Linked DNA regions of Homo sapiens. The protein of the gene in region 2 interacts with the protein of the main gene of each other region in a biochemical or structural test. Each region holds a gene or a part of one and is shown on either strand. Other genes may lie near its edges.

Region 1 (4,180 bases), on a different chromosome or scaffold from region 2:
GGCCGCCAGGTCACGGTGCACAAAGTTCTTCTCCTCCAGGTACTTCATCCCCATGGACACCTGGTGCAGCAGCTCGGCCACATTGCTCACAGGGATCTCCTCCCTGGGGTGGCGGGGAAGGCGGGGTCAGCTGGGAGAAGACTAGCCAAGTTCCCAGGGGCAAAGCATGCTTCTCTGACCCAGCTGGGCATGAGCCAGGTGACCATGTGTTCAAAAACGCTTATTGAGCACCTGCTGTGTGCCAGGCGTGGGGCTGGGGACACAGCAGTGAACAAAACAGGCAAAACTCCTGCCTTCATCCAGTCTCAAGGCTTTAGGGATCACCCACACGCTACGACTCCCAAGTCTAGACCTATGCCTGCACCCTCGACGTGCTGAGGTCTCACAGGCATCTCAAAGATAATGTGGCCTGATTGTCCCCATCCCCATGTGCACACACATATGGCTCCTCCACTGTCCTCTCCAGCAGCTCCTCTTTCTCTCACACCCAATCCATCAGCAAACCCTGGCAGTTCTGGTGTCAGAATCTCTCCAGAATCCACCGCACTCCTCATCTCTGCCTCTGCCACCGGGAAGCAGCCGCAGCATCACTCACCTGGACCCCCAGGCAGGAATAGTCAGCTCCGCCCAGGCCCTCGCTCCCTCCTGTCTCCCACTGTCTTGTCCTCTCTGCCCCTGAGTCAGGTCCTCCCCCTCCTCTGCTCACAGCACCCCCTAGCTCCCACCCAACTCAGGGTAAAACTCCAAGTCCTCCTGGCAGCCCGCAAGGCCTGGCACGGTCTGCTCATCCCCTCCCTGCCCGCACCACACGAGGCACGGGACCACCTCAGGGCCTCTGCACAGGCGGTGCCCTTTGCCTGGAATGCCCTTCCCCACGTCTGGGCATGGCGGCCTCCCTCAGTTTGTTCAAACCTCCCTGCTCACTGCACCTCGCACCCCAACACTCCCAACCCCCTGGAGCTGCGGCAGGCTTGTGCCCACCACACTATCTTCCCACATGCTCTAGATTTCATCAGGATTGTTACTTACTGTCTCTCTTCTCCAACCAGAATACAGAGCATGGATCTCTGCCTTGTTTATTCGCTAATGAATCCCAAGTGCTACTAACAGTTCCTGTCACTGAGAAACTGTCCAATAAACACCTGTCAAATGACTGAATGTGGGAGCCAGGGGCACACTGGGAAGGTGTGTGCACCAGCCAGAGGGCACAGATCAGCAAAAACGTGCCTTGGGGAGTGCAGAACTTGTGTCTGTGAGGGTAAGAGTTTGGGGATGAGGAACCACAAATGAAACTGCAAAACTTTTCAGTAAAGGGCCGGATAGTAAGGATTTTAGCCTTTACAGGCCACAAGTGATCTCTGTCACATCTTCGTTTTTGTTTCTTTAAAAAAAAAAAAATTAAAAATAGAAAACCACGCAGCACGTAAACAAAGGGCAGGTTCCAGATAACTGGCAATGGGCACTTTCCCAGGGGCCATGAATTTGGCCCAGGGAGTCTGGGGAGCAGCTGATGTGTACAAAGCTCTTACTAGCAGTGCCCTTTATTTATTTTTATTTATTTATTTTTTTGAGATGGAGTTTCGCTCTGTCCCCAGGCTGGAGTGCAGTGGCACAATCTCGGCTCACTGCAAGCTCCGCCTCGTGGGTTCAAGCGATTCTCCTGCCTCAGCCTCCTGAGTAGCTGGGAGGCGCCCACCACCACGCCCAGCTAATCTTTTGTATTTTTAGTAAGGACGGGGTTTCACCATGTTGGCCAGGATGGTCTGGATCTCTTGACCTCATGATCCACCCGCCTTGGCCTCCCAAAGTGCTGGAATTACAGGCATGAGCCACCGCACCCGGCCCTAGCAGTGCCCTTTATAGGTGCCGACTCATTCGATCCTCGCAAAGGCCCTGGAGGTAGACACTGTTATTACCGCACTGGTGCAATGGTGGACTGAGGGTTAGCTCTGCTTTGCAGGCATGGGTATGGGTGTGGGTGTGCAGGCTGAGAGTGTGTCCACGATGGTGTGGAAGTGCCCCGGCTTCCCACACACGCATGCACGCGGGTGCATGTCCACCATGCCCAGGATGGGCCCCGGCCCCACCCACCCGATGGCCGGGCCCACCCGGTGCTCACCTCTTGCCGACCAGGAACTTGTGCAGCGGCCCGCCCCCAGCCATCTCCATGACCAGCATGAGGGCCTCGGCCTGGCAGACGCCAATGAGCCGCACGATGTAGGGGTTGTCCAGCTGGTGCATGATCTGCGCCTCGCGCATCATCTCTTCCGTGTCTGCCTTCTCCGTGCCCTGCTTCAGCACCTTGATGGCCACGTCGATCTGCTTCCTGCCCGACCCGGCCACGGGAGGCACGTGGGCGAGGGGCACCGGCCCTGCTCGGCCCCACACCCCCACCCACCCATCTCTCTTCTCCCTTGAGTTGTGTGGTAGACAACTGTAGTCGCCACCCAGGCTGGGACCAAGGCGCTCAATGTCCCTGCAGCCTGGAGCGTCTGCTGAGGACGGCTCACAGCCGGATCGCTCACCGGGAACAGCCCATCGCCAAAAAGAATCCAAAGTGACACCCTCCCCAGGGGCAGCCTGTCAGGGGCCAGTGGACTCAGGGATCGGGGACCCCACTGCAGCTCCCCTGGGTTGGGAACTTCAGCTCCACAGCCTCCCCCTGCCCAGGCCCCATCCCACCCCCGTCAGGTGTCCCGAGCTCTCTCAGGGAATCCTCCAGCGTGCAACGTCCTGCCCCAGAGTCTGTTTCCCAGGCAAACTGCTGTGAGACAGACATCCCGGCTCCCGTCCCACAGCCCGGTGAAGCCACTCCCCTCTGCCCCAGGCGGCGGTGCTCCCACCACGGCAGGGGCGGCCATACTTGCGCATGCGGTACACGCCCTGGCGCACTGAGCCAAAGTTGCCGCAGCCAAGTTCAATGTCAGCTATGAGGAGGTTATCGCGCTTCAGGAAGAGCTTCTTGTCCTTGAGCTCCTCTGGGTCGCTGTAGGGGCTCTCATACACGCTCGTGTCCATGGGCATCGGCCGCGGTTTGTCTGGGGACGTTATGCGTGCTGGGCACACACAGCGGTACACTCCCAGGTCAGGGGCAGGGGTGTGGGGAGCAAGGCAGCCTCAGCCCCCACAAGCACCTGCCCCAGACAAGGGTGCCGTCCCTGGAGCATGCACAAGCAGGTGGGTGCCCATGCGTGTTCCTGCACATCCACACGCACACACTGGCATACACTCCTGGCCACAGCTGTGGGTGCCCCATGAAGCCACATGAGGGTGGACTCTAGGGGCGTGTGCATTGGTATCCACGTGGCACCGTTACTGTGCCAGCTGGGGTGTGCATGTGTGTGCATTCGTACGTGTACGCCTATGGCCGGGCCCGTCCCTGTCTGCGTATGCAGCACACAGCCACATTTACGAGGCCTCCAAAAGCGAGCCTCTAGGTGCACATGTAACTATGTGTCTTCTCTGTGCATACACATGTTCAGGTCTGGGCCCACCCATGAGAAACAGGAGCACCCGCAGCAGACCATTTTAGGAATGTGAGCTCTGGGGCCCATCGTGGGTTCACATCCCGCCTCTACCACTGCCTCACATCCCCATAGACAGACCCCTCCCTCTCTCATCTGTAAAGTGAGGTTAATCACCATAGCCACTTCATAAGGCATGTCAGGAGGGTTCGGTGGCTCATACACACAGTGACCTCGGAACGTGACTGACACATAGTAGGTACTCAACAAACGTGTGTCTGGGGAGCCTCAGGCAAGGCCAAGTGTGCTCCCTGCACGTCAGTACACACTGGGACGTACATGTGCACAGGCAGGTGTGATGGGTGTGGGCACATGTGTGCACAGGTGTTAACCAAGCCAACTGCCACAGCCTGGCCCGGCCCACAGCGCCCCCCGTGAAACCCCACAGCCCTGACAGCGACCCTGATCTCGGCTCAGCATGAGCCCCAACCCGCGTCCCCACCTCTGCCCGCTCACCTGGCTCAGGGGTGTATCCATCTGAGTTGAGGGTGTCGATTCGTCTCTGAGGCTAAAGGCCACAGGGTCAGCAAGGCCTGAGCTGGGGACGTCCAGCCCCTCTCATGAGACCTATATCCACTGAGGACTCCCAGAGACAGTGGAGAGAGAGCTTCTTCCGCTCCACAGGCACCCCAGCCTCCATCCCAGCCTCCCCCACA
Region 2 (4,180 bases):
GGAAATTGCAGTGAGCTGAGATCGTGCCCTTGCACTCCAGCCTGGATGACAGGGTGAGATACTGTCTCAAAAAAACCCTCAAAACCAACCAACCAACAAACATAAAAAAACACTGTCTCAAATTGGTAATCTTCATTCTTGTCTAAACATTATATGTGCATGTGTGTATGTGTATGTATTTTTTCCACATGGTTAGCCCAAGACTCTAGATAATTTCAGTTATTAAATAAAAAATACTACTTGGCTACACTGCAAGGAAATTAACTAGCAAACCTTAAAGGCGAAACTGAGATGTCTCAGGTACCATGAAAGCCACATGGTTAGAGGCAAAGATGCAGAGCTCTGAGTAGAACCATTGCTCAAAGGACTTACCACTGTAAAGTTCCTTCCTGCTTCATGCACATTTATGACCATTCTCGGGACACTAACTGAATTCAGGTTTTTCCCAACACCTGTTATTGTGCTCCCACCACTGGCAAAGCAAAATAGAAAACTGACAATGTTGAGAGGTTCTTTCCACCAAGTACTGTAAGAGAGGGATTCAATTTAATCACCTGCACTGATTACAGGTCAGAGGCACAGTCAACATCAAATGGAAGTTCATGGGTAACTGTTCTTTGGAAACAACTTATTTAACTTGAAAATATTTTTAAAATGCATATTTCATAAGCTTAAGAAATGCATTTGTATTTTATTCACCGAATTACACAAAATAAATATTTCACCTCTGAAAAAAATACAAAGAAAACCGAACTTAACTATTGTTGCTAGACTGATAGAATTAACGGAAACAAGGCAGATTGAACTGGGTCCAATGAGATATCAATTCAAAGAGAGTCTGGCATAAAGAAAAGCTGTGTGTAAAGCAGGCAGGACAAAAACATATCTAGAGAATGGAAGAAAAAAGGTAATTCCACTTCTGGGCACTAAGGTTAGTATAGAATTGATATGTACATAATGTAAGTGCATGTATACTACAATGCCACATTAAACTATTTTGCTATACTCTGTTTAAATGTAATAGAACAGGATAAGATACTTCTTGGAATGAACTAGCATTGATAAGTCAAACTACACTCAGAACCTGAATATAGTTTTCTCTCCTGAATTGGAAAGAAGCCTTCAAAAGCAACATAACAGCATCAAAGCCAGAGATAAAACTGCAATTCCTCTTGACTATTCTACAGCAAAATCATCCTTGTATTCATTGTTTTCTTATACCCATCAGAAGCTTCTACTTACCTAATAAAAGATTTGGTTGGATGAATTTCATAGACAATGGGATCTTCACGGTAACTGAAGATGCTTGTCTCTCGGTTGGCTAAGTCAATTTTCAATTTAACAGCAAACTCAGTTGAAATGGTTTGGGCTGGGGTATAACATTCAAGAATACTGTTTGACACACTGAACAAAAAAAATTAAGGAAGTGAATTTTAGCTATTAGAGATACACATATTTTAGAATTATATCCACAAATCAAAAGGATATAACTCAATGGTTCCTAAGTGGGAATTTCCTGAGTGGAAGCCTTTTCTAGTGTAGGCTGTTTAATCTGACTGGATCTCAAACTTACCTTTGTTGTGGACAAGCTATCCTTGACTGGAAAACATTTGAGATTTGAAAAAAAAACCTTTAAAGTACTTTTGGTACTTGATTAAACTGAGCTCTTCCAACTCTAAGAAGCAGAAACATAACTGTCTTCCAGACCCAATTTTCCCCATTTCTTCCTTCCCCAGAGTGACTTAGTCTAATTACAAATCTTGATGAAAATGTTTATTTTAAATTATTATCAATGACCAGACTCTCACAGCTCATAGTATAGCTAAGATCCTAAGCTATAACAATAAAGAGGGTGGATGGGAAGACAAAACTGAAAAGTAGGATTGCTAAAAAACAAGAGAAAGGAAGAAAAATCAGCAAAAGGAGTAGATGAATTTTGGAAGGAGGAAGTTTTGTCAGTAGGAGAGTAAACAAATAAACATCTTGATTTTTCTTCTCCACACACACACACAAAACAATCTGCTTAATTTTTAAGGTACAGATATTAATTCAAATTGACAGATGCAACAAAAAATAAATTTACAACACCTTTTTAAAGTACATGTTTTTCCACCAATTGAAATGTGTCTAGAATTCCCACTGTTTAGGTAATTTCCAGTTAAAGTAAGTAAAGTGCCACCAGCCATAGGACCGTATTTCGGCGAAATACTTGTTATTACAGGATCCTGGAGGGGAGATAAAAACAAAACAAAGTAACTTGTTCATCTTATAATTTAAATAGATTAAGTAAAAATCAAACATGATAGGATAGAATCTTCCTTACCACATAGGAGAATGTACTGTATTGTGTTGTCCCGTGGCCATTTGAAATAATTATGGACATATTGAAATGCTTATTCATGGCAGGACCAACTGTGCATTTCAATCTGGAAAAAAAACCCAAAGTTTAATACATGACAAATCCAAGGAATTTTCTGGTTAGGTTGTTTTATAGGAAGTGACATTAACTCTAAATGGTGAGCTGACTGCTTTGAATAGCAAGCAGAGTTTCAAGATAAGCATTAAGGCCAAAAATTATATAATCCTATTTCTATACTATGATAAACTTAACTTTTATTTTTATGTAAAAAGAGACAGGATCTTGCTCTGTCACCCAGGCTGGAGGGCAGTGGCATAGTCATAGCTCACTGCAGCCTTGAACTCCTGGGCTCAAGGGATCCTCTGGACTCAGGAGTTGGAACTAGAGGTGCATGCCACGGCATCTGGTTAATTAAAAAAAAATTTTTTTTTTTTTTTGGTAGAGATGGAGTCTCACTACGTTGCCCAGGCTGGTCTTGAATTCCTGGGCTCAGGTGATCCTCCTGCCTTGGTCTGCCAAAGTGCTGGGATCACAGGCGTAAGCCACTGCACCCTGCTTATACTAAACTTTACATTAATGGTACTATAGCACTTATACAGACAAACAGGAAATATCAGACCTTATCCATAAAGACCTCACCAGTTGAATAGTGCATAATAATCTAAGTTTGGATAATATTAATATTTGGGGATAATCTTTGGTCCACTTCAGATGCATATGAAACAATGGGCTAACTACAAATAGGCCAATCTCTTCATTAAAGTATGTCAACAGGTACATTTCTGTGGTTATACTTGTACATGCTTATTTAAATTACTTAAATGATAATGAAATTGTGATGGCTTTCCATAGAATTATTTCTGAATGAATAATCATATAGTTCTGAGAAAATTTAAATACAATTTGATTTATTAAATAACTTTTTAAAGGAGAGAATGAATTATGCTTTACTTTTACAGGTCCTGATTTATATGCAATGATTAAGAGTTTTGGAGATTTTACAAGGGAGATTTCTAGAAAAAATTTGTTTTGCCATTCAGCTAACAAATATTACCTTCATTAGTGTTTTGGTCTCAGTAAAATGGATAGATTCGGACCTTTGTGTAACCCTGAAATGAATTCTATTAGATATAAAATAACCACCTGATAGAATGGGTTCAATCATAAAGATTCAACCATAAAACTTTAAATATTTGAGTGTTGTTATTATGTGATAATGAATAATTTCTGGATTCTCTGATGATTATGGAATTCAAAGCTTGTAGAAGGGTACATGTAGAATACAGTAGAACTAGCACGGGTCTTGGATCAGAAGATGATCAGAGCTGAGCTGAAGGCTTGTTCAGCTCTTACTCTCTGGATTACCTCTGTGAAGCCACACTTCATCTCTCTGAACTTCAGGTACCTCTTTTATATTATAGGAATGATACTGCTCCCTCCCAGGACCGTGGGGATGGTTCAGTGAGATACAGCCCATATATTGCAGTGCCAGTAAATATAAGCTGAATATAAATTTTAACTCATCTAAAAAAGTCTCAAACACGTGATTCAGCTGCCTCACTACATTTCTGAGGTTTAGAAAGTGAATTTAAAAGAGAGGATCCATGCTGAGCTGTTTACTGATTTCTGTAGAAAAAGCCTTTGGAGACTCTACATTTGAAGACTCCAAGGATGAAGTGATCCCAACTAGTGCTACTCTTGCAAATCTACTCAGACAACACCTGAAGACTTGTCGCATAAATGGTTGAGAAACTCCCATTTCTGGCCTCTTCTCTTCACCTAGGCCATGTCACCTTTCTCTCTCTTCAAATCCAATGAGTA
Region 3 (4,180 bases), on a different chromosome or scaffold from region 2:
TCATATTCAGCTCCTCATTACCTATGCAAATTTCTGTAGCCAGCTTGAATTTCTCCTCAGAAAAGGGGATTTTCTTTTCTATCACGCTGTCAAGCTGCAAATTTTCCAAACTTATGCTCTGCCTCCCTTGTAAAACTGAATGCCTTTAACAGCACCCAAGTCACTTCTTGAATGCTTTGCTGCTTAGAAATTTTTTCTACCAGACACCCTAAATCATCTCTCCCAAGTTCAAAGTTCCACAGATCTCTAGGGCAGGGGCAAAATGTTGCCAGTTTCTTTGCTAAAACATAACAAGAGTCACCTTTGCTCCAGTTCCCAACAAGTTCCCCATCTCCATCTGAAACCACCTCAGCCTGGACTTTATGGTCCATATCGCAATCAGCATTTTGGGCAAAGTCATTCAACAAGTCTAGAAAGTTCCAAACTTTCCCACATTTTCCTGTCCTCTTCTGATCCCTTCAAACTGTTCCAACCTCTGCCTGTTACCCAGTTCCAAAGTTGCTTCCACATTTTCGGGTATCTTTTCAGGAGCACTCTACTCTACTGGTACCAATTTACTGTATTAATCTGTTTTCATGCTGCTGATAAAGACATACCTGAGACTGGGCAATTTACAAAATAAAGAGGTTTAATGGGCTTACAGTTCCACATGGCAGGAGAGGCCTCACAATCATGGCACAAGGTTAAAGGCATGTCTTCTCACATGGCGGCAGATAAGAGAAGAGAGTTTGTGCAGGGAAACTCCCGTTTTTAAAACCATCAGATCCCACAAGACCTATTCACTATCACAAGAACAGCACGAGAAAGGCCCACCCCCATGGTTCAATTACCTCCCACCAGGTTCTGCCAACCACACGTGGGAATTGTGGGAGTAACAATTCAAGATGAGATTTGAGTGGGGACACAGCCAAACCATATCAGTTACATTTATATAAAGTTCAAAAACAGGCAAAAATAGTTTATGGCGATAGAGGACAGAATAGTGATTACCTTTGAGAGGGAAAGAGACACTGATTGGAGGGGGCGCAAGAGAGCCTTTTCGAACACTAAAAATGTTCCACATCTGGATTTGAGTGATGACTACACAGATATCTACAAATATAAACATTCTATACATTTAAATTTGTGCAGTTTTCAATAAACATTTAAAGATACTTTCTCTAAACAAATTTTTAATTTTGTTTTTTTTAGACAGCGTCTCGCTCTGTCCCCCAAGCTAGAGTACAGTGGCGCGATCATAGCTCACTGCAGCCTCGACCTCTTGGACTCAAGCAATCCTCCCGCCAGCCTTGCAAGTAGCTAGGACTACAGACGCTCACAGCCAAACCTGGCTAATTTTTTTTTTTTACTTTTGTAAAGGCCGGCTCTTGCTATATTGCCCAGGCTGATCTCTAACTCCTACCCTCAAGGCATCCTCCCACCTCAGCCTCCCAAAGTGCAGGATTACAAGCATAAGCCACCATGCCCAGACTAAACAATTTTTTAAAAAAAAATTAGTAAGCTTTTTAGTTGGATCCACAACAGGAATTAATCAAAAGGAAAAAAAATGTAAAGCCTTATACACAAAGATCTTTATTGCAGAATTTACAATAGCAAAACACATACACACACCTGGAAATAACATTTAATAAATGAATGCCATGCCAACCCTGGATTTCTCTGGTGTGAGAGAAATTAATATTTGGCATCTGTCTGATACTAGTAGCCAAACTTAATGCTGATTAACCTAAAGGAGCCATCTGCCCTGAGGAAGAGCATGATCACAGACACCAAAGCAAAAAAGGGCTAAGCTATTCAAGGCTGAAAGAGGAAAGAGACAAAAGCAAGAGATGAAGTGAGACGTAGACAAAAGCCAAATCATGCAAGACCTCACAGGCCTTTTTTTTTTTTTTTTTTTTAAAGACTATAGCTAAGAAATGAAAAGAAAAAATAAAGTAACTGATTTCCTTGGGCAGCAGAATTACTGGGAGACAGGGGTTGTACACTAAATATTCTAAATGTTTCTAAAAATGAAAATATATTATTCAAGAGCATGTAGTACTTGCAAATGATCAAGCATTTCCAAAAAAAACTGCCCAGCCCTATTAAATTTATAAAATATTTCTGCGATACAGCTGGAATAATTACAAGGTACACAACATATTACAGTATTTGTTGTATCTATTATTTGAATTGATCTACACACTAACATATGAAAATACGTGCTAAAATTTTTGGAAGAAAAGGATGAATTTTTTTTTTTTTGAGATTAAGTCTCTCCTTGTCACCCAGGCTGGAGTGCAGTGGCATGATCTCGGCTCACTGCAACCTCTGGCTCCTGGGTTCAAATGATTCTCCTGCAGCAGCCTCCCAAGTAGCTGGGATTACAGGCATGCACCACCACGCCCAGCTAAATTTTGTATTATTAGTAGAGACAGGGTTTCACCATGTTGGCCAGGCTGGTCTCGAACTCCTGACCTCAAGCGATCCACCTGCCTCGGCCTCCCAATGGGATTACAGGCATGAGCCACTGCGCTGGGCCAGGATGATTCTTTTAAAAAAAAAAAAAAAAAAAAAACTTTTGAGAAACATCCATTCTTTTAAATATTTCCACATATTTTCACTGCTTGTTTTATTCAACTGGCTGTTTGAACAAAAGCAAAAATTATCCATACCATATTCATGTCCAATTCAGCAATCATTACTTACAATTTCAGGAATAGAAACAAGAGAATCAGTGTTTTAACAGGTTTTTTTAACTGATAATTTAAACAAATAGAAAAAGCAACTATTAACAACCAAAAAATAAATGAAAAACAGACCAAGAGAATAAGCATTCCTTTCCCTCCACAGAGAGATTTTACCTGATAGTCTTCTATGCTGTCTTACAGCATTCAACTATTGTTACGTACACATAAGAAAAATACGAAAGCAACCATACATGGTTTCTGTTACAGAAACTTTAGAGTTAAGAGGAAAAATAAACATGAAGAACAAACATATAAAAGCACTCTAACTCACCAAATGGAACAAATGATTTTTCTTTCTTTCTTTTTTTTCTTTTGAGACAATCTCGCTCTGTCACCCAGGCTAAAGTGCAGTGGCGGGATCTCACAACCCCGCAACCCCTGCCTCCCGGGTTTAAGTGATTCTCCTGTCTCAACCTCTTGAGTAGCTGAGATTACAGGCATTCGCCATCACACTCAGCTAATTTTTGTATTTAGTAGAGACAGGGTTTCACCATGTTGGCCAAGCTGGTCTCGAACTCCTGGGATCAAGTTATCCGCCCACCTCAGCCTCCCAAAGCGCTGGGATTACAGGAGTGAGCCATCAGGCCTAGCGGAACAAATAAAATTTTTTTTTTTTTGAGACAGAGTCTTGCTCTGTTACCCAGGCCGGAGTGGAATGGCATGATCTTGGCTCACTGTAACCTCTGCCTCTGGGGTTCAAGCCATTCTCCTGCCTCTGCCTCCCGGGTAGCTGGGACTACAGGCATGCACCACCACAGTGGGCTCATTTTTTTATATCTTTAGTAGAGATGGGGTTTCACCATGCCGGCCAGGCTGGTCTCAAACTCCTGGACTCAGGGGCTCCGCATGCCTCAGCCTCCCAAAGTGCTGGGATTACAGACGTGAGCCACCGCGCCCGGCCTCAACAAGATATTTTGTCTTGTCTTGCTCAACAAGAAGTGATGGTTCCTGACAGATGAACAAGAGGACAAAAAGTAGCAAAATGTGAAGGTGTTACAGTTCTAACACTCAAAAGAGAAAAAGAACATTACAGCTAGATCACTGCATTTAGTTATATGATAAGCCCTCCAGGTTTCCTCTAAATCATTACATTGTTCTGTATCCACATTCAAGGCCTCCAAAGATTAATTGGCATTATCAAGAGATTCGAAAAGACAAACTAAATTGCAGCAGTAAAACCTGTAAGAGATTCATTTTTTAGCAGATGATAGAATTCAATGGTAAACACTGGCCAGGTGCGGTGGCTCATCCCTGTAATCCCAGCACTTTGGGAGGCCAAAGCAGGCTGATTAACTGAAGTTAGGAGTTGGAGATCAGCCTGGCCAACATGGTGAAACCCTGTCTCTGCTAAAAATACAAAAATTAGCCAGGCATGGTGGCAGGCACCTGTAATTCCAGCTACTTAGGAGGCTGAGGCAGGAGAATCCCTTGAACCTGGGATGCAGAGGGTA
Region 4 (4,180 bases), on a different chromosome or scaffold from region 2:
TGCAACCTCCCCCTCCCGGGTCAAGCCATTCTCCTGCCTCAGCCTCTTGAGTAGGTAGCTGGGATTACAGGCATGCGCCACCACTCCCAGCTAATTTTTTTGTATTTTTAGTAGAGATGGGGGTTTCACCATGTTGGCCAGGCTGGTCTCGATCTCCTGACCTCAAGTAATCCACCTGCCTTGACCTCCCAAAGTGTTAGGATTACAGGCGTGAGCCACCGTGCGCAGCTGGGTATTATTTTTAAAGGCATGGGTACAGAATGGGCCAGTGATTCTCAGCCTTTTCCGTTGAACCTGTTTTTAACTTGTCTTGGGTCCTCAGCTTGCATAGGCTTCCTGTGGTGCCATAGCTTGGGAGTTCCCTGGGGCCATAAGGAAGGGCTTGGCCAAGTCTACTGGTCACATTCTGTCAGGTTGGGCTTCAAGATGGACCTCCTTGGAATGCTTGCAAGAAACTAGTTTTTTTTCTCTTGAACAGCTAAACCTTTCAGGTTGACACAGCTGAAGGAGTGTGAGTTAGGAGAGTCGTTATAAGCTTGAGCTGTGGATCCTGGGTTGGGCCTTATTTACCTACCACTTACTGCTTGTGTAACTTTGGGCAAATTGTTTAACTTTTCCCTGCTTCAGTTTCCTCATCTGTGAAGGAGGGAAATAGTAATACTGATCTCATAGGGTTGTTGGAATGATACTCCATATTCAGTACTGGCATACTAAGTACTCCATAAGCATTTCATGTATACGAATCTTAATAACATAACTGAGGTGTGGGGGCTTTTGAAGCAAAATGGAAAACTTCTTATCTTTGAGAGGCTGTGGAATTCATGCTGTGGATGGTAGGAACTGGTGAAACAGTTTGTCTTGGGGAGTAGGTGCCTGGGTGGAGTGCATCCGTAAGTGTGAAAGGACCTCGGGTCCAGCACTTGGAAATAAGATGGTGCCTCCTGTTACCTGCTCATCCGACCTGTTGCGCTAGTGGGTGGAGGGGGGCATAAAACGTGCTTCATTTTGAAGGCGTGGGACAGAAGCTAGGGTGGTAATAGTTTGTGATACTCCCTCGAGGTAGTGAAGAGCTACATGCCAGGCTGGCAGCTGGGCCAAGCCACTTCTGGAGGTAGCGTGAGACTGCTGATGGCCCTGTTGCTCAGGCTGGTGTGCAGTGGCTCCGTCATAGCTCACTACAGCCTCACTGTATGACCCAGGCTGGGCTTGCACTCCTGGCCTCAACAGATGTCTCCCTAAAGATTGGTTAATCAGTTTTTAAAAATAGAGAAAAAAATAAAGAGATCCTCCTGCCTCAGCCTCCCAAAGTGCTGAGATTACAGGTGTGAGCCACCGCACCTGCCTGACCACAGAACTTTTGAGAAGCATCTTGAGATCCTGTGGAATTTTCTCTGGGAAACGGTCCAGTGGGCTCTGGATTTGAGGATGAATTGAAAATTGCTGAAGGAATTTGGAGAATTGGTTGCTTTTTATTGAGCACCTATAATGTACGAGCCACTTTTTCTTTTTTTTTTTTTTTTTTTTTTGAGATGGAGTCTTGCTCTCACCCAGGCTGGAGTGCAATGGCATATTCTCGGCTCACTGCAAGCTCTGCCTCCCAGGTTCAGGCAGTTCTCCTGCCTCAGCCTCCCCAGCAGCTGGGACTACAGGCGTGCACCACCATGCCCAGCTAATTTTTGCATTTTTAGTAGAGATGGGTTTCACCATGTTGATCAGGCTGGTCTTGAACTCCTGACCTCAGTGATTTGCCTGGCTCTGCCACCCAAAGTACTGGGATTACAGGCGTGAACCCCCACGCCCAGCCTCTAGCCACTTTAGGAACTTTATTTATTAGATAGGTATTTGACCCCATTTTGCAGAGTCGGGGGTGAGGCACACAGAAGTTAGGTAACTCAGACAGCTAGAAAATGAGAGCCACAATGCACCAAACCTGCAAAGGACCGTCCTCATACCCACCATCTTTAGAACATTCTATTTGCTTAGGAGACCATATATCTTCTCAGATGGAAACCAGTGGCCTTCTGTCGCCCAGGCTGGAGTGCAGTGGCGCGATCTCTGCTCACTGCAAGTTCCGCCTCCCGGGTTCAAGCGATTCTCCTGCCTCAGCCTCCCGAGCCAGTGGCCTTTTTAGCGTTTTGTATTGGTGGGTATTTATCTAAGCAACCCCTGTAAATACCACAGGCAGAGAAGGAAGGGAGGGAGCAAGAATTGAGGAAAAAAGGGAAAAGAGGGCCGGGTGTGGTGGCTCGCGCCTGTAATCCCAGCACTTTGGGAGGCTGAGGCTGGCTGATCACTTGAGGTCAGGAGTTCGAGACCAGCCTGGCCAACATGGCAAAACCCTGTCTTTCCTAAAAATACAAGAATTAGCCAGGTGTGGTGGTGGGCGCCTGTAATCCCAGCTACTCGAGAGGCTAAGGAAGGGAGAATTGCTTGAACCCAGGAGGCAGGAGGCAGAGGTTGCAGTGAGCTGAGATCGCACCACTGTACTCCAGCCTGGGCAACAGAGGGAGACTCCGTCTCAAAAAAAAAAAAAAAAAAAGGAAAAGAGAAAGTGCTGTGAGATCAAGGAGAGCCTGGCCCGCTCTTGTAGACCCGTCAGAAGTGATTGGGCCTATTTTAGCCCACAGAGCCCTCAGGTGTTCTTCATGAAACCTTCAGGGAGGGAGTGGCCTTGTAAAAATGGTCGTAACCTGAGGCTTGAAATGCTTGGAAGGCTTAGAAGTAACGGGCTGAGCAGGTACCGAGAAGCTGAAAGGATATCCTCTCCTTGCATTGATTTTGATTTCCGTTTGTGTGACTTCCTAACTCCACGTTCAGAATCCAGCACAGGGTGATGTAGAACAAGTCATTGAGGTTTTCCAAGTCCCAGATAGCTATGAGAATCCTGTCGTTGCTTCTGTTCTCTAGACTGGCTGACTGTGCCTCCTTCCTTTCCCGCCCTTCTATTTCCTGCCTTTGGCTGTTTGTGGTTGGAAGGAGAGGAAAGAGAGAAAAGGAGCCGGAACACACAGCCATGGTGAGGTTTGGGCTTATCTGGGACTTATGTGTGTTCTGTTCTCCTCCCTTCCTTCTGGAGTTTGGATCAATGAAGCTTGATGGCCCCCAGCAGTTCACAGAAACGGGCATTTCTCTGTGAAATTATTACAGTGTCAGAATAGAAAAATAATTTATAAGTAAAGTACATCAAAGGTTTTCCGTGGCGTTTTGCTTACGTTTCTGTGTCTATTGGGATTGCCAAACAAAAAGAAAGTCACGGCCGGGCGTGGTGGCTCACGCCTGTAATCCCAGCACTTTGGGAGGCCGAGGCGGGCGGATCACGAGGTCAGGAGATCGAGACCATCCTGGTTAACACGGTGAAACCCCGTCTCTACTAGAAATACAGAAAAAAAAACCCGGGCGTGGTGGCGGGCACCTGTAGTCCCAGCTGCTCGGGAGGCTGAGGCAGGAGAATGGCGTGAACCCAGGAAGCGGAGCTTGCAGTGAGCCGAGATGGCGCCACTGCAGTCCAGCCTAGGCGAAAGAGCGAGACTCCGCCTCAAAAAAAAAAAAAAAAAAAGTCATAGTGAGCCCAGTTCACGCTATTGTGGCATTTGACCAAGAAGAGAATTAAACCTGCTTCCTACCTTTGCGCCAGATGATCTGCCAAGTTTTCTCTCACTCATCTTTCAGAGCGACTTGGCTTAGTAGTCTCATTTGTTCTTTCCCCGCCAAAATGTATTTCGCTCGGCCTGCTATGGTAACAGTGGCTGGCAGGGGGTGGTTACCTTCCTTCTTCCAGTGGAGAGAGTACCTTGGAAGTGTTCACAGATGGTCGTAGTTGCTCATGGCGATTCTGTTGTATCTCAGGACACAGTGCGTTATTCCAACTGTCTTTAGCAGGAACATAGATCCAGGTGAAGGTGAAAGCCGGGTGGGAGGTTGTCTTCCTAAGACGTGCCGCTTTCTCCTTGTTCACCAGCCACACTGTGCTTGCTGTGTTATCTCCAACAATGCTGTGAACTTCTCTGAGCTTCTCCAGTCTAGGAAGGCATTGTGCTTAGCTTCTTTCCATCACTTCAGAGTTAGGCTTATTAAGATAATATCTGGCTGGGCGCGGTGGCTCATGCCTGTCATCCCAGTACTTTGGGAGGCCGAGGCAGGCAGATCACAAGGTCAAGAGATCAAGACCATCCTGGCCAAC
Region 5 (4,180 bases), on a different chromosome or scaffold from region 2:
TTTCACCCCAAATATTTCCAAATCCTGGGCATTGTGCACATTGGCTGAGGGGTCTTGGGAGGCACATGGATCTGGGGCTCAGAGCAGCTTTGCCACCAGCGAGGGGCCCAATCACCTTCTCCAAGCCTCAGGGGCCATGGTAGCACATCACATGCAGCACACCACGCATATCACAAAACATTCTTTTATGAGATTGTATGTTTATCAGGTGTCAGATTATATACATAATCTGACTATATAATCTTTCTCTACAGACAGATTATAGAAAGAGATGTAGGCATAGATGGAGATAGAGATATATAACATCAGACACTGGGGCTGATTAGAAATATTTTTCCTATTTTGCAGCAATGTTAATTCATTAATCTCAGTGTCTAGAGCAGCTGGAAGATGAAATGCTGGCACTAAAGGGATTTCCTGGGACAGCCGGTCCACTGTGCAGGCAGACACCACCCAAAGGCTTTCAGCTGCCAACTGGTCCCTGCCCCAGTTTCTCTGTGGCTCATCCCCACATGAAACAGTAGTGATGGGAGCACGCAGACTGTGTGGCTGCTCTGTCCAAAAGCCTTCCCTGGTTTGCATCTCAGCAGAGTAAGAGGGGCTGCTCTTACATGGCCAGTAAGTCTCTCCCTGAGCCACTCTAACCCCCAGCTACATAGCCTTCTTTCTCATCCATCGACTGTCTAGAGATCAAATGGCCTAGGTGCGTCATTCATTCATTCATTCATTCACCCATCCATCCATCAAATACTCACAGAGGCCCAAACCACGCTGGCCTCCTGCTCCTGTTGGCCAAGCCCATGCTCTGGCTGCTCTCCCCATGGGGACATGCAGACCTCAGAGAGCCCAAGACTCCCTCCCTCTGTGAGTCCCTGCTGCTGCCAGGACCATGGAATAAAACCAGCAGCTCCCCACCCCCTTCTGTGAGTACTCGCCAATCCCTAAGCCACTCCACGCAGGCTCCACACTACTCTCACCACCCTACAGGATGGCTGTGTGTTTGATAAACATCAGTCTCTCCCCACTACAATATTCACTCTCAAGGACATGGGCAGATACCATGGCATCCTAGCAGCTGAGAGTGCCTAGCATACTCAAATATTTTTTGAATAGGAGAAAGATTTAAACATTAAAAATTTAATTTTAAATTCCCCTCATGCAAATATTTTGTTAATAGTCAAACATAAATGAAAATATGAAGGCTCTGGGAGAAATCCCTCTTTTTTTTTTTTTTTTTTTTTTTTTTTTGAGACAGAGTCTCACTCTGTCGCCATGGCTAGAGTGCAGGGGTGCAGTCTCGGCTCACTGCAACCTGTGCTTCCCAGGTTGAAGTGATTCTCCTGCCTCAGCCTCCCAAGTAGGTGGGATTACAGATGCCCACCACTACGCCCAGCTAATTTTTTGTATTTTTAGTAATGACGGGGTTTCACCATGTTGGCCAGGCTGGTCTCGAACTCCTGACCTCGTGATTCACCCACCTCAGCCTCCCAAAGTGCTGGGATTACAGGTGTAAGCCACTGCACCTGGCCGAAATCCCTCTTCTTAACCATGCCAGCACAGACCATGGAAAAATGGAGGGATGGTCAGAATCTGGCTCTGCAGGCTTCAGGTGTTAGGAATCTGGAAATAAATACTGAATGATGCCCTCACTGATACCAGTATGTTAAAGAGCAGAAGGGCCTCCCACTGATAAACAAAGGTGGTTATTTCTTGAAGAGAGAGAGACTCCAGGGCACTTATTACAAAACCAAGCATCGGAAATCCTTGTCTCCATGTGGGTTTCCTCCTTCCAGTCAGGGGGACTGCCTTGGAGGAGCCCCTGTGTCTATCCATCCTCATCTCGACACCAACAACCATGCCCGGAACATTCTAGTATGTGGTGGAATTAATCAGTGCAGAACAAGAACACACACTCAAAATAAGGAGGCAAAGAAGTGTCTAAGCACTCTTAGAACAATTTATGCTAAAGATAGTGAAAATAAAAATCAAGTCTTTTTTTTGTTTCGAGATGGAGTCTCACTCTGTCGTGTAGGCTGGAGTGGAATGGCGCGATCTCAGCTCACTGCAACCTCCACCTCCCGGGTTCAAGCAATTCTCCTGTCTCAGCCTCCCGAGTAGCTGGGATTACAGGCATGCGTCACCATGCCTGGCTAATTTTGTAATTTTAGTAGAGACGGGGTTTCTCCATGTTGGTCAGTCTGGTCTCCAACTCCCGACCTCAGGTGATCCACCTGCCTCGGCCTCCCAAAGTGCTGGGATTACAGGCGTGAGCCACCATGCCCAGCCCGTGAAAATCAAGTTCTGGCTCAAAGCACTTATTCTTTGCTATCGGGTAGATGAAGTAATTATTACTTTTTAATGCCTTCATGCAACCTGACTTTTTCTCATTTATACAGCTTGATTGTAAATAGCTAAGTAAACCATACCTGGGTAGGGAATTTTCCCATAGGTGACAATTTCGTATAGGAGGATTCCAAAGGACCACACATCAGACTTAATAGTGAAACATCCAAAGTTGATTGCTTCTGGAGCCGTCCACTTAATAGGGAACTTAGCACCTAAGGAAGAAGATATGTGGTTCTTACTTGGGTATTTAAACTTAAACAAAAAAGTCATGAACATGTGACCCCATACTTTCTTTTCTTTTCTTTTTTTGAGGCGGAGTTTCACTCTTGTCACCCAGGCTGGAATGTAATGATGCGATCTCGGCTCACTGCAACCTTCACCTCCCAGGTTCAAAATAATAAAATAATAATAATCCTTGTTCAACAATGCTTAGGAATTTCAAGAAAGTGCTTGTCTCTTCCAGAAGACAGTGAGCACTGCAAAAATATTTGCTCAGCTCTCGTGGGTGAGAGCATAAGAATCCTCAGTCATAACCACGTGGGCAATCCTAGCCCAAGAAAGGCCCTGCAGTCCCGACCATGCTTGGCCCCCTGACAATGTGCCACAGGCTGGGGAACTTAGGCCTCTCTGTGCATTTTTGGTTCATATATATAATACAGAATGTGGGAAAATAAAGAAGTAGATTTTTTGCATTATATTTAGTTCTGTGTGTATGGTAATGTTCATGTTTTAATTTGTAATTAAAAGGCTGGAATAAACAATATAGAATTAATGTTACAAATATTTTCTCCACAGCCCCGTATATTATATTCATTGTTTGAGTGAAAACTTTAACAATACAAAATAAACAAGAATCATCTTGCTGAATCTATTTGTGTTTTGCATTGCTTAATTGAAATACAACTGATAGCATTTGTAAGCCTAACAAAAGTATCATGTGGAGTTAATCAAGAGAGTACCTTCTAGAAACTATTAGAATAGAACCATAAGCAGACAATTATGGTACAGCTTAAATGTTGTACCAAATAAGTTTTTCTTAATGGTGACTATTGTAATTGCTTTGTCAAAAACAGACAAAAACAAAATAAAACACAATAATAAAACATCTAAAGATCATTAGTGCAACATACCTTCCCTTGCTGTGTACTCATTATCTTCAATTACTCTAGCAAGGCCAAAATCTGCAATTTTGCACATGAGTGACTCGGAGACCAGAACATTAGCTGCTCGCAGGTCCCGGTGAATGTAGTTCTTCCGCTCGATGTATGCCATTCCCTCTGCAATCTGAAAACAGAAATAGGCTCCCATTTTCATATGTAGGGTAGGTGACTGGAAAGTGCCATCAAGGAAAACCGGAAAACTTATGAATTCCTGAAATCTTTTCATGTATACTATTTTGATCATTCAGCTTTTAAAGACAGTGGGTAATGGCAATCACCATTTGAGCCCTTTCTAAAATAACTGACCACCCTCTGCCAAATCTCCAACAATGGTCATCTTAAAAAAAAAAAAAGGAACATGTCTTAACATTTTCTTTTTTTTTCTTGAGACGGAGTCTCGCTCTTTCACCCAGGCCGGAGTGCAGTGGCGCTATCTTGGCTCACTGCAAGCTCCACCTCCTGGGTTCACACCATTCTCCTGCCTCAGCCTCCCGAGTAGCTGGGACTACAGGCACCCACCACCATGCCCGGCTAATTTTTTGTATTTTTAGTAGAGACGGGGTTTCACCATGTTAGCCAGGATGGTCTCGATCTCCTGACCTCGTGATCCGCCCGCCTTGGCCTCCCAAAGTGCTGGGATTACAGGCGTGAGCCACCGCGCCTGGCCATGTCTT
Region 6 (4,180 bases), on a different chromosome or scaffold from region 2:
CCTTGTAGGGGTTTTGTGAAGTTTAAATAAGTTGATACACATAAAACATTTAAAACAATGTCTGGCCAATTGTAAGTACCTGGGTGTTACTTGTTATGATCATTACCAAATGTTACAGGAAGCGCTCAATAACAACGTAATTGAATAAAGAAGTAACTATGGTTGAATTTTTTTTTTTTTTCAATTGTAATTATAACCAGAAAACTGACTGGATCCACTTTAGGGAAGACACAAGATATGAAAGAAAGGATAAAGTCTGAAAGTTAGAAGTAACACAACTACAGAAAATAGATTAATGTGGATTGTTATAGCTGTTCATACACTGACATCCTCAATATCAAAACCTTATTATACTCTTTATAGATTCCACATCCAAGTAGAATTCTATTTAATGTGCTTTCTAACAATCAGATTCCTGACAAATGTGTTCATAAAGTAATAAAAGCAGCAAAACCTTAAATATTTTATACTGACAAAATATTTAAGGTAGTAAATGTTAGACAAAATACAAATGCTCTGAACACTAATATCATAAAAACATAGTAGACAAAATACAAATGCTCTGAACACTGATATCACAGAAACCCTTAAAAAAAGATTGAGGGGAGGGAATAACATACCTAATACAAACAGAAATAAGGAGGAAGCTTTGAGGTTTGCTATGCTTTGAACGTGTCCCCAAGGTTCACGTGTTGGAAACTTAATCCCCAAAGCAACAGTGATGAGAGGTGGGACTTTTAAGAGGTGATAAGGTCATGAGGGCTCTGCCCACATGAATGGATTAATGCTATTACCACAGGAGTGGAGAATGGGTTCCAGATAAAAGACGGAGTTTGGCCTCCTTCTCTTCTCTCACTCTCTTGCCCTTCCACCTTCTACCATGGGATGATGCAACAGAAAGACATTAGATGCCAACCCCTTGATAATGGACTTCCCAGCCCCCAGAACCCTGACATAAATTACCCAGTCTGTGGCATTCTGTTATAGCAGCACAAAGACTAAGACAAGGTTCTTACATCACAAGGAAGCAAACCCCCCTGAAAGGACTAGAATACCAATTCTGTGTTTTATTAATCAAACCCAACTAGCAATATGATTTCGTTCAGGGACTGCTGCTCACTGTGGATTACTGAAAAAAAAAAAAAGACTGACTTCTCAATTGAGAGGGCCAGACTAGGCACAGGCAAGAAGAAGAGTATAATACACTAAGTTTTGATGATTTAAAGTAATTTGTAACAAAAAGTTATTTCATTTAGAACTTTAAAAAATTAGAATTTTATTTCAGCACCTTCAAATGGATATGATAATAATAATGATAAAATAATAGCATCTATCTCCTCCAGGTAACTCAATGAGGTGAAGAATAATAGTGTCTTTGTTTTACAGATGAGGAAACAAAACCAGAGAGACTAAACAACTTGCAATGGTGGAATCAAAAGTTGCACAGGTGGAATTGAAACCTGACCATCTGTATCCAGAAGCTATGACCTGACTTCATTAAACTGTAATTTTTTCAAAGCCTACTTAATCACTATTTTAAAACAAAGAACATCCTTCTAGTGTTAGAACTGACTCAGGGCACAGAAATGGAAAGGGCTTATAATGTTCTATGAGTTTATTTCTTGGGCATTTGAACTTAATAGAGGCCAAGAAAAGTTATTTTAATTGCCATATTTCATAAGTACAGACAAAGGTTTTGTGTCTTGTTCCTATAAAAGCATTTCACCTTAAGGTCATTTTTTACCATATGAAATTTTATCTAAGGGGTCATAATTCATTCCCTGAACAATAAACAATCTTAAACACCACCCACAAATAATCTCATTTTAGTGGTTAACCCAAATATGTGCAATTGTTTCCACTGTCAAAAATAGTGCATAATTGTTTTAATCTTCACTGTAAACTAATCTTTATCCATAAAAGTATGGTTTTATATCATGTTCAAACTTTTAAATACACACTCATTATTTATTAATTTTTTTAAACAATTTTACAAATAATTCATTTGGCATTTCCTTTTAAATTTACAATCTTTAGAAACTTTATATGGACTATCTTTGTAGAAATTAAACAACTACACTTTAGAAAAAAATTGTAACATATGTAACATATGTAACATGTTATGTTCATTTCAGAGTTGAAAAATAAGCCACCTAAAAGCCAACTCAAATAAAAAGAATACACAAAAGATTTCACAAAATCTCAAATCTTTTCACCTTAATAGTAGAAAAGATTCTGATACCTATAGAGGTATATCATAAATGTCTCCTAAAAATTATAATAAACTTGGATTCATCCCAAGTCTGTTCTACCATCATTATTTTCTGTATCTGCTTTTAAAAGGGGAAGAAATAGGCCAATAACAGATTTTAGTATTTAAAAATCAATATATTCCAGAAGAAGAACACAGAGCCAAATTGAAAGACATGAGGTTCCTCCCACTTATCCCACATAGAGAGTAATAAAAACGAGAAAAACATGAATGGAAGAAACTGAGAAATCTTTCTGAATTCTGTACCATCTGAGAGGGTGACATGTGGAGATGAGTTCCTCCCATGGAAAGGGAACCTTTCCCCTTACAGGAAGAACAATTAAAACTCAACACTTTTTTTCCTTCCATCTGGCAGGAAGAGGTGTGTTGGTCACTACAGAGGTGTTTATGGCCCAAATATTAATAAGCTAGCATTAATGATTAACAAAACTTCGCAGAAAGAATAGAGAAGAAAAAAAAGGAGACATGAAAGAGAAGAGGCTAAGGGATCCCAAAGATGTAACACCACATTTGAAGTCCTCTTCTCCTCTCCTTGACAAACAGAAAAGTAGTCTGAATTAGAAAACCATCTAAAATTCACCACTCCCACCCAGAAGAAAAATGGCTTTTTAAAGAGCACTAACCCCTTCTCACACAATGATAATGATAGCCTGGGCTAAGAAGCTCTAACAACAAAGGTTTGGCTGCTCCAAAGCTATAGGTTCACAAAACAATTTGAAATCTGAGAACAGCTCACAACACGGCGAGATACTTTAAGAAAATTATACAACAGATTGAAGATAAAATTCATCACTAGTGACTCTACCCGCCTTCTCCAGGAAAATGAAATATGGAAGATTTTTATCACCACCCAATCTACAAGTGCAAGGGAAAGATAAATAATGGATATAGTACGCATTGGCAAACAAAATGCCTAAAGATAATACGTTGGGGGTAGGGGGAGGTAAAGCCTGGAAACTTAACACCTAGGAAAGACTTCCACAGAACAAAAAGTGAAAGGAAGTCAGTGAAGAATCTTCTTTAAAAATAAGAGAAAATCTAGATCTCATTCTGCTCTTCAAGAAAGTCAGAAAATCTCAAATAGATCTTGACAGTGATCAAAGAGCAAAACCACAAAAGTCGAGGAAAAGTAAACAGAACTAAGGAAGAAAATTTAGGCTGGAATCCTCTACAGAACTCATAGACACCAAGAACAGAATCAACATAACAGGAAAATCACACAAAATTCAAATAATTCAAGCCAATGAGAAACGTTGTCTAATGGTGATCTCATAAACAGACAACTGGTACAGCACCACCACCACCACCAGCCCCTCCCTGTCCTGAAAAAAAAATAGCTTTATGTGAGAAACGGGAAAAAAATGAAGCATTTAATTCAAATGGGGGTAAAGGGGCACAAAATTAACTCAAGACTTCAGAGGATGAACGTAAAAGCAGAAAAATACACTATAAACAAAGCTATTAAGCCATAATATGAAGGGCTGATCCAAAATGAGCAAAAAACCTGCCCGAACTTAATTCTTCCCAGCTCCTCCTTCCACTCAAAAGGTAAGACATTATTACCTAGCAATTGATTGTTTTTCAAACCAGCCTAGTATGCTGTTCCTTCTTTCCACTCTCTATGCCTGCGGACTTTTTTGCCTTTCCCTGTGAGGAGGAAAGAAGTTGGGAACGGTTTTGGTTGAGAAAGTTTACTTTGGGGCAAGTTGTCAAAGATAATTGTGAGTGGAGCCAGCAAAAGAACCAGCATGATCAACGGTATCAATAAGCACCTGAGAGCAAGACTTATTCCCCGTAATTTCAATTAAGGAGAATTATCTTCTCAAACTGCGTAATTATATCCACTTTTTAAGCAGATCATTCCAAAATGCTTCCTTGATTAAAACTAATTTTGACCACATCTTTTGT
Region 7 (4,180 bases), on a different chromosome or scaffold from region 2:
CTCGGGCTGGGGGTAGTTAATGGGGAAATGGCCCCCAGGGTGGGGCTGACCAGAAGAGCCCCTCAAGGAGCTCATGGAGCCCAAATCCCCTGCCCTGGGGAGGGGACCTGTAGTGTGTGACGGGAGCCTCTCCCGAGCCTCTGCTTGTACCATCAAAGATGCCCTTGGCCAACAAGGGTCAGGAAGCATGGGGGAGGGATTTCGGCCTCCTCTGTCCCTACCCAGCCCAATCTCACGAGCAGGGCTGGGGGGTTTAAAAAGGGTGGAGCGGGTGGGGTTGGCTCACACGAAGGAGTACTGGTTGTTAATGGCCCTGGGGTGGCCCCCTTCCTCTCCATCACCCCCTAGTGGTGACTGCTGCAGCTGCACCATTGGGGGCACCCCCGCGTCCCCACCAGACCCAGCGCCCTGGGCCTCTGAGCCTGGGGCTATGGCCTCTTCCAATTCAACCACGGGGACCAGCTCAACCACGGGGACCAGCTCTTCCGGGACCCCTCCACCGCCCGCTTTCTCTTTCTCTTGCCTCTCTTTGGCTGCTGCGGCTGCTGCTGCCGCCACTTCTGGCGCCCTCGACGCCTCTTCTGCCCCAGGCTGTGGGGGATCTGTCCATGAAGGGGGTTCAGGGGGCTGGGGTGGGTCATGGGAGGTGGTCGGTTCTGGATAGGAATGGTAAGAAAACAGACTGATTGTGGAGGCAGGTGAGCTCCTGCCGTGGCCTCCCCTTCACTCAGCCCCCCAGGAGCGTGGCTGTCTCCCCACATCCCATCTCCTGAGCAACCCCCCATCCATGGAAGATGGATCATGGGCGGTGGTGAGAGGAGGACCACACTTACACACAGTCACTCGCTCCGAAGGGCATGAGGGTGCAGGAGGCATCGGGGTGGCATCCATCTCCCTCGCACACCCCCGCATGGCTCCCAGCCTGCTCCCGGCCTGGGGGGAGGGGCAACGTGGGGACAGATGGGACGGTGGGGCAGGGGAAAGGGAGAGATCAGACAGGGACATGAGACATTGAGGGAGGAGGGAAGGGGATCAGACCGAGTGTCCCCGGGAAGGGCAGGCCCAAGGCCAGGCTGCGACGGAGGGCAAAGACGAGGCCAGGATGGGTCCAGGAGACAGACAGACAATGGAACAGAGGATCCGATGGAATGGGGATGCGCCCGCCCACCTCTCAGCTGCCGCCCCGGCTCCGGCCAGGAGCCTTCTGCCTTCCTGTGTCCTATCAGCGCATTTCTTTCCCTTCCAAACCCCGAGGCACAACAGCCTCCTCTACCCTGCTCTCCCAAGCAAAGCTTCTCCTTGTGATAGTCCCCCCTCCCCGCCCCATCTTTCTGGCACACACACCTCACTTCTTGGGTGCACGGGCACCTCCTCCCCTGCAGACCTGCTCTGCTCACCCTGCTGTCGCTGGGAGGATGGGACATAGCTGACAAGGACAACATCACTGGAGCCTCCCGACTCCAAAGGGATGGGGTGCACCCGGAAGTGCTCGAGCATATCGAAAATGGACTGGAACCACAGGTGCTGGACCCGGCACTGACCCTCCTCGTTCAGCGACAAACGCAGGTGCTGAGGGCGGGATGGGGGAGGTGAGGTAGGAGGCAAAGGCCCTGCCAGGTACAAACCCCCTCCCCCGGCAGTGCTCCCCCACCCCACTGCCAACTATGCACAGAACAGAGCCTTTCCCACAGGGTGGCTCACCTTGGCCTTGCCCTGGAAGTTGAAGGTGAGGACGTATTCACCCCGCCTTGTCTCACTCTGGCGCACCAGGAAGACACCGTGGGAGCCAGTGCCGCCAGTCAGCACCAACTGTGCAGCCTTGAGCCGAGAGAGCATCCCGTGGAACCAAGGATACCCTGAGAGGGGCTGGTCCCCCTCACCGCCCTCTGGCTCCCCCTGGAACAGGAAGGACCCTTCAGGAAGGAGAGAGGGAGGGAAACCGGGGTGTCAGGGCAGCCTCCCCCATCCTGGGAGAAAAAAGCCTTGCCTTCCCCTCAAGGCGCCTGCTCCCCACATGCGTCCCCAACTCCCCTGGGCCAGCTCCCTCGGGATCCCAGGAGAGGTGGTCAGGAAGGTAGGCACCCAGGCCTGGAGACATGCACACTCACACCTCCGGTACCTGTGGCTGTTTCCGGAGTGTCCAAGGGAGGGTAGGGGGCTGAGAGGGGATGAACTGTCCCTGTTGGGGGTCCCTCTTCAATGGGGATGCGGGGGGGCAACTCTGGGGGAAGCAGTTCCATCGAGTCAAAATGGGAGGCGGCAATGGAGGCAGAGCTGGGGGAGATGGATGCCGAGGGGCGGTCTGAGAGGCCCCCATATGCCCCTGGAAAAAAAAAGGGCAAAGCTGAGAACCCAAGAAATTCCTCTTCTAAAGGACTGTCCTGGGCCCATCTCCTCACCAGCAGTCTACCCTGTGTGCAGTCGCTGGCCAAGATGCCAAACAGCTCTGTGGGTAGTGACCCCTGATGCTTTTACCAATGGCTCCTAACTGATGCTTCCTGCGCTGCTGAGGGACTGCAGAGTTATTGCAAGGAGGTTCTAAAGTCCCAATGTGTCTCCATCTTTTTCTGAATCAACAGCTGAAAGACTGTTGCAGAAACGGAGAGCAGAATGCCTTAAATATATATATACATGTTTTTGTAGAGAAGGGGTCTCGCTATATAATAGCCCAGGTTGGCCCTGAGTTCCTGGACTCAAGTGATCTGCCCACCTCAGCTCTGGGATTACAGGCGTGAGCCACCGTGCCCAGCTGCCTCAAATATTTTGACATTCAAAAGGAGTCCTGGGCCAGGCGCAGTGGCTCACACCTGTAATACCCGCACTTTGGGAGGTTGAGGCAGGAGGATCACTTGAGCTTAGGAGTTCGAGAGCAGCCTGGGCAACATGGTGAAACACCATCTCTACTAAAAATACAAAAATTAGCTGGACGTAGTGGTGCACACCTGTAATCCTAGCTACCTGGGAGGCTGAGGCAGAAGAATTGCTTGAACCCGGGAGGCAGAGGTTGCAGTGAGCCGAGATTGTTTCACTGCACTGCAGCCTGGGCGACAGAGCAAGCCTCTGTCTCAAAACACACACACACACACACACACACACACACACACACACGGAATTCTGGCTGCACACAGTGGCTCACGCCTGTAATCCCAGCCTTTTGGGAGGCTGAGGTGTGAGAATGACTTGAGCCCAGGAGTTCAAGACCAACTTGGGCAACATGGTGAGACCCCATCTCTTACAAAAAATAAAAAATTAGCTAGGTGTGGTGGTGGCACACGCCTGTGGTCCCAGCACCTTAAGCCGCTGACGCAGGAAGATGGCTTGAGCCAGGGAGGTCAAGGCTGCAGGAAGCTGTGACTGCACCACTGCACTCCAGCCTGGGAGACATAACAAGACCCTATCTCAAAAACAAAAACACAAACAATAATTTTTTAAAAATAAAAAAATTAAACACACAAACAAAAAAAAAAAGGTGTCCTTTGTTGAACTATAGGACAAAGCCCCTAACTCTTAAGAGGCATCAAAGATGCTCCTTCTATTACTCCCCCAACCCACACCAACTTGAGCTTTACCTTACCTTGTATTCATGTCTCTTCCACTTTAACCCAATTTCCCATCCAATTTGTCCCCATATCCTGGGCCCTCCCCGCAGGTCTCTGCTCTTGCCCTTCACGTCCCCAGGCATGTCCTCTCCTCTCCTCGGCGTCGCAGTCCCTGTCTCTCCCACCTTCCCCTGCTCTCTTCCTCCTGAGCTCCCAACGTGATTCCTGCTTGTGCTGCTCAGGGGACACTAAGCTTTCTATAGGGAGTGATGTCAACCCAGCTGAAAGCCTCTAGAGAACAAGGAGCTCATCTCAGGCATCCTAGCTACCCCATCCTGGCCCGGGACACAGAGCAGGGCCAGGTATGCACTAGGGCCATCCTCCAAGTCTGTCCAACAGCAGGCCACTGCCTACACAAATGTCATAGGCAGGCAGTGCTCAGAAGACAGGCGTGTGGTGCACAGACAGCATGGCTTGGGAAACAGGGTGGCGCAGCCCCTGTCTTCCTCAGTGACCCTCAGGTGTCCTCTCCCTGGTCTTAGCTACTAAGATCTGATGAGATGCAAGGTCCACTCTAGATCTAAGATTCCATGATTCATGTGTTCATTCACTGAATACAGCCTGTGTGCTAGGCACTGTGC

Evidence for each region.
Region 1: the proteins of MET (region 2) and ZAP70 form a complex in vitro, tested with the Homo sapiens proteins (one large-scale study listed by BioGRID and IntAct).
Region 3: the proteins of MET (region 2) and NCK1 form a complex in vitro, tested with the Homo sapiens proteins (one large-scale study listed by BioGRID and IntAct).
Region 4: the proteins of MET (region 2) and CRK form a complex in vitro, tested with the Homo sapiens proteins (one large-scale study listed by BioGRID and IntAct).
Region 5: the proteins of MET (region 2) and LYN form a complex in vitro, tested with the Homo sapiens proteins (one large-scale study listed by BioGRID and IntAct).
Region 6: the proteins of MET (region 2) and ITGB1 interact in far-western blotting, tested with the Homo sapiens proteins (one study listed by BioGRID).
Region 7: the proteins of MET (region 2) and SH2B1 form a complex in vitro, tested with the Homo sapiens proteins (one large-scale study listed by BioGRID and IntAct).

The regions. Positions count from the first base shown.
Region 1 is NC_000002.12:97,733,396-97,737,575, reverse strand, and holds part of ZAP70 (tyrosine-protein kinase ZAP-70), read right to left. Parts: exon of another isoform or gene 4,033-4,180; coding exon 3,981-4,032; exon of another isoform or gene 3,057-3,980; coding exon 2,864-3,056; intron 2,327-2,863; coding exon 2,120-2,326; intron 104-2,119; coding exon 1-103. UniProt on the Homo sapiens protein: Tyrosine kinase that plays an essential role in regulation of the adaptive immune response. Regulates motility, adhesion and cytokine expression of mature T-cells, as well as thymocyte development.
Region 2 is NC_000007.14:116,755,683-116,759,862, reverse strand, and holds part of MET (hepatocyte growth factor receptor isoform b preproprotein), read right to left. Parts: intron 2,427-4,180; coding exon 2,324-2,426; intron 2,226-2,323; coding exon 2,089-2,225; intron 1,405-2,088; coding exon 1,243-1,404; intron 527-1,242; coding exon of another isoform or gene 473-526; coding exon 373-472; intron 1-372. UniProt on the Homo sapiens protein: Receptor tyrosine kinase that transduces signals from the extracellular matrix into the cytoplasm by binding to hepatocyte growth factor/HGF ligand. Regulates many physiological processes including proliferation, scattering, morphogenesis and survival.
Region 3 is NC_000003.12:136,868,406-136,872,585, reverse strand, and holds part of NCK1 (SH2/SH3 adapter protein NCK1), read right to left. Parts: intron 1-4,180. UniProt on the Homo sapiens protein: Adapter protein which associates with tyrosine-phosphorylated growth factor receptors, such as KDR and PDGFRB, or their cellular substrates. Maintains low levels of EIF2S1 phosphorylation by promoting its dephosphorylation by PP1.
Region 4 is NC_000017.11:1,445,967-1,450,146, reverse strand, and holds part of CRK (adapter molecule crk), read left to right. Parts: intron 1-4,180. UniProt on the Homo sapiens protein: Involved in cell branching and adhesion mediated by BCAR1-CRK-RAPGEF1 signaling and activation of RAP1.
Region 5 is NC_000008.11:55,997,796-56,001,975, reverse strand, and holds part of LYN (tyrosine-protein kinase Lyn), read right to left. Parts: intron 3,631-4,180; coding exon 3,477-3,630; intron 2,559-3,476; coding exon 2,427-2,558; intron 1-2,426. UniProt on the Homo sapiens protein: Non-receptor tyrosine-protein kinase that transmits signals from cell surface receptors and plays an important role in the regulation of innate and adaptive immune responses, hematopoiesis, responses to growth factors and cytokines, integrin signaling, but also responses to DNA damage and genotoxic agents.
Region 6 is NC_000010.11:32,947,840-32,952,019, forward strand, and holds part of ITGB1 (integrin beta-1 isoform 1A precursor), read right to left. Parts: intron 1-4,180.
Region 7 is NC_000016.10:28,869,923-28,874,102, reverse strand, and holds part of SH2B1 (SH2B adapter protein 1), read right to left. Parts: intron 2,324-4,180; coding exon 2,120-2,323; intron 1,914-2,119; coding exon 1,702-1,913; intron 1,570-1,701; coding exon 1,398-1,569; coding exon of another isoform or gene 1,345-1,397; intron 934-1,344; coding exon of another isoform or gene 834-933; intron 657-833; coding exon 283-656; 3' UTR 1-282. UniProt on the Homo sapiens protein: Adapter protein for several members of the tyrosine kinase receptor family.